Homo sapiens: one gene and its partner. The protein of the gene in region 1 purifies or fractionates together with the protein of each later gene. This does not show direct contact. Each region holds a gene or a part of one and is shown in the gene's direction. Other genes may lie near its edges.

What was found.
Region 2: the proteins of KLHL36 (region 1) and TPP2 purify together in Homo sapiens (affinity purification with mass spectrometry; 2 studies listed by BioGRID and IntAct, with this or other methods). This does not show direct contact.

The regions. Positions count from the first base shown.
Region 1 is NC_000016.10:84,665,511-84,668,186, forward strand, and holds the end of KLHL36 (kelch-like protein 36), read left to right. Parts: 3' UTR 1-2,176; downstream 2,177-2,676.
Region 2 is NC_000013.11:102,640,229-102,650,690, forward strand, and holds part of TPP2 (tripeptidyl-peptidase 2), read left to right. Parts: intron 1-41; coding exon 42-148; intron 149-2,993; coding exon 2,994-3,148; intron 3,149-4,328; coding exon 4,329-4,445; intron 4,446-4,680; coding exon 4,681-4,781; intron 4,782-6,065; coding exon 6,066-6,162; intron 6,163-6,978; coding exon 6,979-7,116; intron 7,117-8,678; coding exon 8,679-8,923; intron 8,924-9,179; coding exon 9,180-9,258; intron 9,259-10,462. UniProt on the Homo sapiens protein: Cytosolic tripeptidyl-peptidase that releases N-terminal tripeptides from polypeptides and is a component of the proteolytic cascade acting downstream of the 26S proteasome in the ubiquitin-proteasome pathway.

The DNA.
Region 1 (2,676 bases):
TGGTTAGCACGCAATTGGTATTTTTATTGTTCTGCCATTTTATTGAGGCTATCAAGTGGGACTTCAGACCTGGCTCTGAGCAGGACCACACGTGTGTATTTATATTGAGTGCCCTCACTCATGATAAGGTGACTTCATGGAGACCCAGAAACTCACCCTAAGGGGTGTTCACCTTTGAGGTGGGCATCCAGATGCTGAGGGGAAGTGGGGTCCATCCTCTGAGGTCCAGGGGCCTACTTTGTGAGCTCAGTTGTGTTCACCTGTGGTTCAGTGTACCTCGGCCCCTAAGCCAAGTGATCGTTCAGTGACTTGCAGCAATGTGGGAAGTGAGGGGACCCCTGCCACACCCCCCACCACCCCCTGTAGAGTCACTGACCTTCATCCTTCACCCTGGTCCTCCATGGTGCAGCAGCATCTCATGGGCCTTGTGGCTGTCAGAGCCCGTGGTTGGAACCCCGTCCACTGGTCCCAAACCTGGAGGGGCAGCTGCAGATGAGGTTTAGACCTCCTGGTGTCTCCGTGGATTCTGAGTGCCCAGGAGGGGAGGGGAGGGGGTGGCATCCTGGCCTCTAGGATAAATGCCTGGAGTATAGGGCAGCGCCACGGGCACTTGGAGACCCTGTCCTGCGCATCTGCCAAGCCTGGCAGTTTTTAGAGTTTTTTGAAATGTTTTGATACTTTTTGATACAATTTGCTAATAACTGTTTTGTAGAATGCCTGCCGGGGTTTTCCACCTCATCCCTTTCCTCCGGCCCCTTGATTTGTGCTGGACAACAAATGGCAGCACCAGGACCTCGCCTCATGTGGCTTTGTCTTGGATCTTGCCCTTCTCCATCGCTGATGTGATACAGCTCTAGAATTTCGTGAAGTTGCATGCAAAGTTGCATGCAGCCCGTGGGTATGACTGTCTCAGGCCCCCAGCTCATTTGCCAAGAGGAAACCTTAACCCCCCTGAGAGGGTCTGCGTTTCTTCTAGAGCTCCTACCTCAGTGGTGTGCACAGAGTTGGAGACACCTGAGGGCTGGTCCACGTCTCACCTTTGCCATACGGGTCATTTCTTGATCAAATATATGACTGGGGTCCTGGTTTACTCCCGCCCACCCTTTCTTTTAAAGTATTCTTAACATGAAATCCACAAAAGCGGAAACAATGAACCATTCTTGCACTTTACAGAATCATTGTCCTTAGCTTTAGAGGTTGTTAATTTCTTGTTTTTAACATGAACAGAATGTGTGGTTCTGAAGGTGTGTGGGGGTCTCAAGAAATTGTCCTTTGGGGCCGGGCGCAGTGGCTCACGCCTGTACTCCCAGCACTCTGGGAGGCCAAGGGGGACGGATCACCTGAGGTCAAGAGTTTGAGACCACCCTGACCAACATGGTGAAACCCCGTCTCTACTAAAATACAAAAATTAGGCAGTCGTGGTCGCCTGTAATCTCAGCTCTTCCGGAGGCTGAGGCAGGAGAATCGCTTGAACCCAGGAGGCAGAGGTTGCAGTGAGCCGAGGTTGCGCCACTGCACTCCAGCCTGGGTGACCGAGTAAGACTGTCTCAAAAAAAAAAAAAAAAAAGAAAAGAAATTGTCCTTTGGTTGCCTTAGTTACCAGAGTTGAATGAATGTACACATTTCGGTAGTGGGGGGGCAGAGCGGATAACCCCTTCCTTGTCTGTTTCCTTTGAGAAAGGACACTCCACCTTTTCAAAGGTACTTAAAGCCATCTTTACAGATTGCTTGTAATGTAAGGAAAGAGTCATGTCCTTTGGATTGATTGAGGTTAAATCATCAACCACTAGCCCCCTTTCAAAATCAGCGAGATATTTGATGATTAAGTGATTCATTGGGTATGTTCTGGCTACTGATGTTACTGAAATCTGCAATCGTGTATGTTTTTTAATTTGTTGCTTTTGTATTTGTAATTTTATGACATTTCGAAGTTTCTGTGTCTTAACTCTTTTTAATTAATTTTCTGCACGTTGCTTTTTTCTCTTTGTTTTTAATTCCATACAGAGTATTCAATTCTTGAAACACATTAAAATAATTTGCTTGCTAGGGTATGGTTTATTTTATAATTACATTCCTAGTCTTGTGTGGTTATTGTAATGATGTCTGGTCCTAATTTCTCTGCCCGTATGAAAAAGAACCCCTTGCCTGTTGATCCTAAATATAATTTGGAAATTAACCAGACTTCCTTTTGGTGTTGTGGGGAGGCTGGGACATTTCAATTCTGCTTTCATTGTGTTTCTAATTACTGTATTTTGCCAGGAATTTCATTCAGTTCCTTGATTGCAGGGCTAAGTCCCCGTGACCTGAAATGAAACTATTTGCTTAAATGTGTGTCAACTGGGGTAATTTGATTAGAAAAGAAACACAGAAACCAAGGGAAACAGCTTATGACAAGCAGTGTGCTATCTTTATCAGAAAAAATGCAATCACAATACTCTAAGAACCAGCTCTGTTTTCCTTCGGGCGCTCCCCTGCCTTGCTGGGGTTTTGCAAGGCCACCAGCAGAGAAGCCCAGGCACGGTTGTGCACCCTTTCCTTGTCCCTTCGGCAGGTCAGCATCGGGAGGGTTGGGGAGGGGTGTCTGCGCAGCCATCATACCTGATAAGGTGGTTAGAATTTGCCTCTGAGCCAGTGAGCCCCAAACGGGACCCGCTGCCCGGTGCCGACTTCCTCACC
Region 2 (10,462 bases), on another chromosome or scaffold:
ATAATAAATATATACATTTAATTACTTTTATTAATTTTCAGAGTAAATGAATCATCACATTATGATCTAGCCTTTACAGATGTACACTTTAAACCTGGTCAAATTCGAAGGCATTTTATTGAGGTTCCTGAGGGTGCAACATGGGCTGGTAGGTAAAATTAAAATCTGTGTGACCGCTTATCTCTGTTTACGTTCTAATGACTATAGCTGTATGAGGTTCGTTTATCTGTAGCATGTATTTCCCTGGTACTAATATATGTATTTGGGTACCTTAGACTTTCTGTAAAGTTCAAAACGTTTTTAAGATCTAGTACAATTTTGCATTGGCCCATACAGGAAATTAAGCCATCTTAAGATGTTTTTAATATTTAAGGTTTGAGCTTAGTTTAGAATAATGCCTTACCTGGTAATAATTTTTTTTTTTTTTTTTTTTTTTTTTTTGAGACAGAGTCTCACTCTGTCGCCAGGCTGGAGTGCAGTGGCATGATCTCGGCTCACTGCAACCTCCACCTCCCCAGTTCAAACGATTCTCCTTCCTCAGCCTCCCGAGTAGCTTGGACTAGCAGGCGTGTGCTACCACGCCAGGCTATTTTTTGTATTTTTAGTAGACACGAGGTTTCACCATGTTGGCTAGGATGGTCTCGATCTCTTGACCTCGTGATACACTCGCCTCGTCCTCCCAAAGTGCTGGGATTACAGGCATGAGCAACTGTGCCCGGCCTAATTTTTAAAATACTACAAATCAGTTTAAACAATGCAGCTGTTGCTTAAACCTCAAACTGTTAAACTCTCAGAATTTTAGAAATAGAGCTTTAATCTTTGAAGCTCTGTTTATAGAAGATTTTCACTTCAGTGTCTCTGAAATTTTGAGAGTAAATGATTGCCTAACACAAAGCTCTTGAATTAACATGTTATAGTCCTGTGAGAGTGCTCATGTCATTCTTTTTTACAAGAGCTGTGGGTGTACCATATTTTCCTTCACAAGTTGTGTGTCCTAAATTTACAATTTAGCAGTCAGTATAGAAGGGTATGTCAGTTGTCAGAGCTCACTCCCATTGATAGAAGGAAGCAAATACGGGCAGTCAAGAAAGTGTCACCCAATTTAAATTAGTAGCCAGCATTGTTGATACTTCTTGGATTTGGCCCCTCTGCTAAGCACTTTACAGAGATTATCTTGTCTAGTCCCGTCAGAACCCTATAAGGTAGATAGGTGTCATTAGTAAAAATGGCTTGTATTTTACTTAGGAGTGTGTTTTTTGTACTTGTATGAAAGTACAGATATATTTACATCTGAGACTTTATTGAAAATGAAATATTGAAATCACACATGTATGACTTGGTTTGGGAATAACTGGTTGTATTTGGTTCCCCATACCATTTTCTGGTCATCTATCTGTATGCTGTCCATCTGTTTGTCACCTGGTATCACAGGAAATACCAGACTTTTCTTGTTTTTTGTAATTAGGTAAAGGCAAAATAATAGCAAAAGCTGAGAGCTAAAGCAGTGAATTGAACAGCACCCAATATAGCCTGTTAATTTGCACACTGGTTTATAATGGAGCTATTGCAGCAGTGAGAGGCTTCTGAGGATAATCGGGTTGTACTACACTCATTCATTAAGCATATTTTTCTGTACCATCTGTGCCAGGCCCTTTTCAGTGGGCTAAGGTGGTGAGCTACTTAGACAAGGACCCTGCTTCCAGAGGCCTTGAGAGCATCTAGTCCAAGATATTGCAGTTAAGAGAACTGGATTAGAGGGAGGCAGCACAGAGTAGCGGCAAGGCCACGGGCTTTGGAAATTGAGAAGTCTGGGTTTGGATCCACACTCTGCCATACGCTAATGGTTACCTGGGGGCAGGTTTCTAAATTTTCTGGACTTCTGTTTCAACTGTAAATATAGTCGTTAGTCTGTTGTAAGGATTAGGGATTTTATAGTACTTGGTACATAGCTTGTCTTCGTTGGGATTACGCTCACACTTGACAGTACTTCTAGAGGGTGGAGTCAGAGTTGCTGTGTTCAGCATTCCTGGGGTCCCATTCTCATAGGGCCCCTGGGACTTGTAGAGCTCCAGGCTCTGGTAAAATGTGCACTGGTAAATTAAAGAATACAAATCTATGGTTAATTAATACTGAATTGGGTACTTGTTTAGTGATAAATGGCACTGATTTATGATTGGTTTAGGTTGGTATTGAAAATAATTTGTTTTTTTAAATAAAAATTATCAAATGATCTAGAATGCAAGTAGTTAAGAGAATTTAACAGTCTTAGTTTTATTTCAAATAATTAGAAATATTGTCATAACACTAGATTTTGTATTCTTAGCAACTGACTAGGTTCTGAGAGCTCTCTGCACACCTGGTTTTATGAGCCACGGCATTGCGCCTTGCTTCAGTTCCCTTGAATTAGCTTGGGTGTTCTTTAGAAAAGCTGCCAATCTGGCATTGCGGTGATCTTGGCTTACCTCCAGCGCTGGCTCAGAGTAAAGTTAAGCATAAGTAGTCGTGCCAGGCTTTGTAGACGCACACAGTACACAAGTAGACCAAGAAGAGAGATTAGGAAAAGTTATCAATGAGGAATTGAGGCATGATAACAAATAGAGGTTTCCAAAAATATAACCTTCCTTACTTTATCTGGAATTGACTGGTTTTCAGCTAAAACAAGGAGGGATTTTAAAAGGTACCCGATTAATGTAATTGTGTATGCATCTATGGACAGCTTGCTGTTTCCAGGTGTTTGCAGCCTCATGGTGGTGGTTCATTTTAATACCAGTTTCTTTCGTTCCCATAGAAAATCTTCTAGTCTTCTACCTTTATTAATATTTTGTTGATTCTTTGTTTTTATGGAAATATGCAGATTTGAGTGTACATTTTATTTTTGATCCCTATTATGTCCCTACATGGGAATTATCCCTAAGTGGGCATTATTAAAGCCACTTTATGTCAATTTTAGGTCTTATAAGTTTAAAGCTTTGCTTCTTTCTTTCTTATTTTAGAAGTGACAGTGTGTTCGTGTTCTTCTGAGGTGTCAGCAAAGTTTGTTCTACATGCAGTCCAGCTTGTGAAGCAAAGAGCATATCGAAGCCATGAATTCTATAAGTTTTGTTCTCTTCCAGAGAAAGGAACACTGACTGAAGCTTTTCCTGTCCTAGTAAGTTTAATTATAGTTTATAATCCTAACACAATTTATTTGCCTTTTTGGTATGGGCTAAGACTAAGTATTTGCATTTGATTTTATAGTTTGTATTTAGCATGTTGGGATTATATATTTTTTTAATGCCAAAAAAATGAAGTAGAAAAATAGAAAATCTAATCAGGGTACTTGAAATCAAGTTGGAGGTAATTATGGCTGTAATTCTTGAATAGCATAGTCAAAGAAACATACTAGTCTGGTAGATTCTCGTGCCTTGTAGTTAGGACCCTGATTTAGATTATTCTTTGTTGTACTATAGATTAATTTCTTTAAGACCTGTTTGCTTGTCACTTAACTTATTTTACTAATGCTGTGTTGTTAAGCTATGAGGCTAATTTGCATTATAGGAAAACTGCTACTGCTTCATGTCTAAGTTATCTCAGATGATGGCAGACTGCATTCTTATCTGTGGTGTTGGAAATGATGACTAGTCTTTCTTCCATAGAAGGTGAAAGTACTGATGTTCTTCCTTCAATGCGCTCCTTTGTGTTTTCAGTTGGTTCTGGGATTTTCCCAGTATCTCTTGGTTTCTGGTTACTTTCATTTGTGTTCTTCCATGGATCAGTGTTGCTTCATCTTTTTAAACTTTTAAATCACTGATTACTAGAAAACTTACTTTAAAACTCAGTGCTAAGAGCAGGTGTTTTTTTTTCCTTTTCCTTATCTTTATTTTTTAATAGGGAGAAAGATGTAAATGACCATAATGTCATTTTGTTTTGGTTGCCAGGTAGCTGTGAGCCCAAACTCAATTGTGCCTATTGAGTATGCCTTACAAAGTTGAAGTATCTTTATTGTGTCGTTATACTTGATTATTTTTCTTTTGGTCCTAATTTTTTATTTCACTTCGAAATAATAAAATCACATTTGCTTTATTATATGTGCTTTCAGAAGCTGCCTAGGATCTTTTATGACAAGAAGCATAGGGTTATGAGTAAATAACTATGTATATTTAAATACACCATATCTCTGCAAATGATTTGTCTAACTCTTACTTAGCATAGCTGTTAAAATTTTTGAGTTTTCTTGCTACAAACAGGAAAAGTTTGAAAACAGAATTGCTCTGAAACAGCTAGTATTTATATTCTGTAATTTGAGAAAAATAAGAAAAGAGATATATTTTATTTACTTTTATTTGCAGGGTGGAAAAGCAATTGAATTTTGCATTGCTCGTTGGTGGGCAAGTCTCAGTGATGTCAACATTGATTATACCATTTCTTTCCATGGGATAGTGTGTACTGCTCCTCAGTTAAACATTGTAAGTTCCACAACATTTTCATGATTTTTAATGTCAGTTACTTGTGTTACTGGAGAGTAACTTCATTGGTTAGATTTAAACTTTAATGAGGGGAAATTACCTGTGGTTCTGAAGATAGCAGTAGGCTTTGTGTGTGGGTACTTATAAACTTTATATTGGACACATTTATTTTAGGTACAAAATATTGCTTATTTTTAGTAAAGTTTGAGAAAGTAATTTGAGAAATCCTTTGTAGCATGCATCGGAAGGAATCAACCGCTTTGATGTTCAGTCCTCCTTGAAATACGAAGATCTGGCTCCCTGCATAACTTTGAAGAACTGGGTCCAAACACTGCGGTATCATTCAATGTTTTAGGAACTACAGATATTGAATATAGATTGGGGGGATCTCTTACACTCTTAAAAAAGGGCCTTTTTTTTTTTTAATCCACCTGCATGCTAGAGGTGAGAATTTTATCCTTGCCAGCAGATCTCTGCAAGGCAGCCCCAGTATCAGCTTCTAGCTTCACTGTCCCACCTGACCAGCAAAGTCAAGGATGGTGGATAGCCGATCCCAGTCATGACTAGTTAGGATCAGTGGACATTAACCTTTTTATTTCTTGCTGTAAAATAGCAAGTTAACATTCTCTCTGATATTATTTTGTGAATCCTAATGCAGTCATTTTTAGAAACTGCAATACCATTAGAAACTGTTTATTAAATGGTAGAAACTTAAGTACTGTAGCCTGCTGTTTGTGCCTCAGCAGCTCCCCTTACAAAAGCAGGGCACCTTGACCTGTGTTCACATACTCACTGTGTTATAAAGATACCTGGTTTCTTTTGTTTAATCTGACCTTAACTCATCGGCATGAAGCCTAGTCTTAAGTGTATTAAAATAACCAATTAGGGACAATAGTCAGTGACACGGTGATGTCTAAAGATATACTGCTTCCTAGAATTATCAATAAAAATTAAAACATCCAGCTTTTGAAGATATATCCAACTTATATCATCCTGATGTTTTCTTCCTAAATCTAAAAAATTGGAGCTAAATTTAGAGTAGATTATGTTTCACTGACATTTTAAACTATATTTAAAACTTACTCTTCAGTGTCAGTTTTCTCCTTTATAAAATCTGTACATTAGCAACTTCCTTCAGAGGACTACTAAAAATATGAAATAACATTCCCTCGGCCAGGAGGAGGGCTGAGTGTGGCCCCTGCCATCTGGTGAGCAGCAGGGGTCTGGGGAGGTCTGTGCTGCACACAACACAGTACTGTCAACAGTTTGCACAAGGGGTACAAATCAGAACCTGTCTTGCAACACTTTTAGTTGTCACCCTAGTGTTAGGATTTGGTTGTATTGAGAGCTGTTTGTTCACATTTGAAAATGTTTTTGCCATGAAAAGATTGCCTTTGTCATATTTATTGCAAAATCTAAACTGTATGTATTGATATGATTCAATCAAATAATTATGTAAGTTAGTGATTAAAATATTGTAGAGTATACTGAAAAGGATAGCTCTCAGGAAGGTTCATCTGCACTTTTTGCAATATGTTACAGATTTTGTTGCATATGGTTTTATTTGTCTCATTCAATGAACTCTTGAATCAAACCAGTTATGTAGTTTCCTCATTACAGCCCAGTGAGTGCAAAAACAAAACCTTTAGGATCAAGAGATGTTTTGCCAAATAACCGTCAACTTTATGAGATGGTCCTGACATATAACTTTCATCAAGTAAGTGTTTGCCTAGTAAAGTGTACCCTTAGGATGAACTTTTGTGTTTTATTTATGATTCATAGAATCAAAAATGGAAGGACAGTGTATATGGTATATATAAAAAACAGAATCAAGTGATTAACAGTTAATTTGGAATTACTCTTTAGGAAATTATAATTTGTAATTAAATACCATTCAGTTGTAAAGTCACAAAATGTAATTGAGTGGTGACCTAGCCTTAAGCCTTAGTTTATAAAATCACTGATCACTGTCCATTGGTGCCATCTGACCCAGGGGTGATTAGATGGCTCAGAAATACCATCTGCCTTCTGGTGATGGTGCTGGGCCTGATTGCTTTCTGCGAAGAAGGCACTGGAACAGGGAAAGGTCAGAGTAGCTCCCAGGTGGGATGGGTGGCAAAAGTAATGGAGGCCAGTGTAAATGCTGGACCAAAGAATTGTTGTAAGATCAATGAGATTTCAATAAAACTGTTACTGAAACACACATCAGTTTGGTTATAATGTTAGGGAAATGGATTGGTTTCAGTGAATTTTCACATTTCAGTTTTATAAAGTAATTAGAGGTCCTGAAGTATGTATATGTTGCTTTATTAATGAATACACATAGCCAGGTGTGTATTTTTAAAAGTTTGTAAGAGAGCAGTGACTTTTATAAGTGCTAAAATACTGTGTGTTCTATATTTTCAAAATTTTTTACCACAAGTATTTTTAATGTTTTTTAAATGAAAAAGTCTCATGTCAATAACAATATTAAAAATTTGTATCAGAAATTATATGCAAATCATGCCAAGTAATCTTTTTTGTTTTTTAATAGCCCAAGAGTGGGGAAGTAACTCCAAGCTGCCCACTACTTTGTGAACTATTATATGAATCTGAATTTGACAGCCAACTGTGGATTATTTTTGACCAGAACAAAAGACAGATGGGTTCAGGCGATGCCTATCCACATCAGGTATAAAATTGATGGTGATTTTTAGAATTAACGGAAGCTGTTTCCTGAACTAACAAAATCCTGGTTTCTTGTTATGGTAATGTTCATACTTTAAAAAAAACAAAAATTATAGCTTTGTGTTTAGTACTTTTGCAAACTGTGAGAGCCTGTTTGTTGTAGTCGGTGAAGAACAGATGGTGTCAACTATTTCACCATGTAGTTGTGCTGAATTAGAGGAGGACAAGGGTGAACCTTGCCCACACTGGCCAGCATAACTTTTGGTGTGTGGTGTTTCTCCTTCCTATACACTGATTCTACCTATCTGAAGGTAGAATCATCAAAGCATGCATCAAAGAGATGCGAGCCTCTTGAAATGATCCTAAGTCTGAGGGGGCTAAAGAGAGCACTGCAGCAGTGGCCGCATGTCTTCAGTTCATTTGTACTTTTAAATTTACTACCTCGTTGGACAACTCTGTAATGAGCACTTACTACATACCAGGCACTATGCTTTGTGCTGTTTTATTGAAGGGAAAAATCACATAATTTATAGACATTTTATCCCTTAGATATTACTGCAAAGAAATGAGATATTTCCTGTAATATGTATAATTTTATGTTGACAAATGAAAATAATTTATGGAGATTTTTTTCAATTAGTTGTTAAAGGAATGGTATCGATTTTCCTCAAAGCAAGTAGCAGTCACATCTCATTACAGACTGGCCTACTGCAGTGCTATTATTTTGGTTACTTTTTAAATCTCAGAAAAAGTGGCTGACACAGGATACAGCATCTCTTCCTCTTGAACCTGTTAAGTGGATAATAGATTTGTATCCCTTGATCTCTATTGGTTTCCTGTTTTTTTCCTGTCTGTAATAAAGGAGTGACATTTTGGTTGTAATTTGAAGATCAGCTGGGCATGGTGGCACATGCCTGTGATCCCGTCTACTCAGGAAGCTGAGGTGGGAGGATCGCTTGAGCCCTGGAGCTCTAGGCTATGGTGCACTATGATTGCACCAGTTAACAGCCACTGCACTTCAGCCTGGGCAACATAGTGAGTCCCCCTCTCTAAAAGGAAATAAGGATTACCAGTAGTCATAAGTTACACGTGTGTGTGTGTGTGTGTGTGTGTGTGTGTGTGTGTGTATTTGTCCTAGATATTCTATGGTGCCTCAATTTTGCTCATTTTTTTGGTAGTGTTTCTTATATGTCTCTGAGGGACCCATGAACTAGAAAATCACTGCTTTTGTCATTCTCAAGCAGACACTGAGTTTTGCTAAAAGTGTGGGAGTATTCTGTCGTTCTGGAAAGAATGAGGGCTTTGAAGTCAGACCTGACTTCAGCTCTCTTATACTTTACTCTGTGTGATGTTAGGCAAGTCACTTGATGTCCCTGATCCTGTCTGCTCACCAGCGTACTAGGGACTTTATGTGTTATATGAACGTCTGGATAGTTAGTTCCTTGCACTGTACCTCACATATTATGAACAAGTCTGTGAATGGTAACTTTCACTTTATCCTCTTTCAGTGATTTCCGTTGACTTGGTTAAACTTAACTTTTCCCAAATGTTGTTTTTCTTTTTCAGTATTCTTTGAAACTGGAGAAAGGAGATTATACAATTCGACTACAGATTCGCCATGAGCAAATCAGTGATTTGGAACGCCTTAAAGACCTTCCATTTATTGTTTCTCATAGATTGTCTAATACCTTGAGCTTAGATATTCATGAAAATCATAGTTTTGCACTTCTAGGGAAGAAGAAATCAAGCAATTTGACATTACCACCCAAATATAACCAGCCATTCTTTGTTACTTCCTTACCTGATGATAAGTAAGTGATAACATTGCTTATACTTACTGCCCATCGTATACACTGTAGTCCTTTTAATGTCAGTTTATGACATCTAGGCTAAATTTAGAGGATGTAGTCATTTTTTTTTTGGCTGAAGTATTTCTTCCTTTGATTTTTGAAGTCTTAGCTATGGGAATGAATTCAGTGTGGAATTGTTTTCATGTTTTTCCCCTTACTTGTCTTTGTGAAACTTTCTCTTTTGTTGCTTTTTTTCTCTTTGAATTCTCTTGTTTAGAATACCTAAAGGGGCAGGACCTGGATGCTATCTTGCAGGATCCTTAACATTGTCAAAGACTGAACTAGGAAAGAAAGCTGTAAGTATTAGTTTTTTAAACACTGAAATTACCTATTAAAAAATTTCATTTCTTTAAAGATAAGAATTAATTCCACATTTCAGAATGGATAAAAGAGAAGATATACTCTTGGGGAAAAAAATTTAATCCTTTTTTCCCAGGTTACTAGTGAAAGTCAGTTAATATTTAGTTGTCTTTTAAAATGTATGCTACTTTTGAAATATTTAGGCTTCTTTTTCACAAGCCTACAGTACTCAGGCCCTGAACCTGTCTTACCTCCTACGGCTAATACACTTGAACTTCCTGTGAAACATGTAAATACAAATCAAACTTGGCTTAAATACATGTGATATTTAAGATTAGAACATGTTATAGAAATTTAACCAATAAGATTGGTTGTCCATATAAGATTATGGACATAGGAATAAATCAGATTATCTTGGGGTGCTTTTAAAAAGTAGTCAGAACAATTACCCTAAAACATGTTTCTTCACACTTCTACAGACCTATCTCATTGGAATTTCACATGGTTAAGTAGGAAAATATGAGATGTTTCTTTTGGTATTGCCTTTTAATTTCAAAATGATGCTTTTTTTAGAAATATGTTTCTGGTTGTTGTACTTTAGACATATATGTTACAGTTTTATAAGTACCTACCTGTTTTTGTTTTTTCCTTCTATGTTTTCATTACAAATTTATTATGAGAATGATGTTTATATAGATCTATCACCTTTTGTCATAATAATCATTTTAGCTCAATGCCAGTAAAAGTTGTCATTCTTAACAGTTTTGCATTTCTCTGTACTATTACTTCTTACAGAGCTAAGTAAGCCTGCTACATAAATGCTGTTATCAAAATGAGTAGTTCTCATACATCTTAAGAATTATATTTATTTTTTGCCACTATTGAACCAAAAGCCATTTATTTACTGTCATTGAAGCATAATTGGGGAAACTTGTGCTTAGAAAGTTGCCTACCCTGACATTTCTTGGGTCTCATTTCAGTTTATACTGTTTATACATACGTACTTTAGTATAATTTGAAGTAAATCAATAGTTAATGGTTTGTAATTAATACATGCACTGATTTAAGAAACCCTGGTAGTTTTTTTTGTAGATTTCATTTCACAGGAAGCATAGCTGCTCCAGCTATTGGGCGTCAGCTGTGAATTTTCGTTCAGATGACAGATGACACTTTGAAGAGTCTGCTTACTTGTGAAGAGTA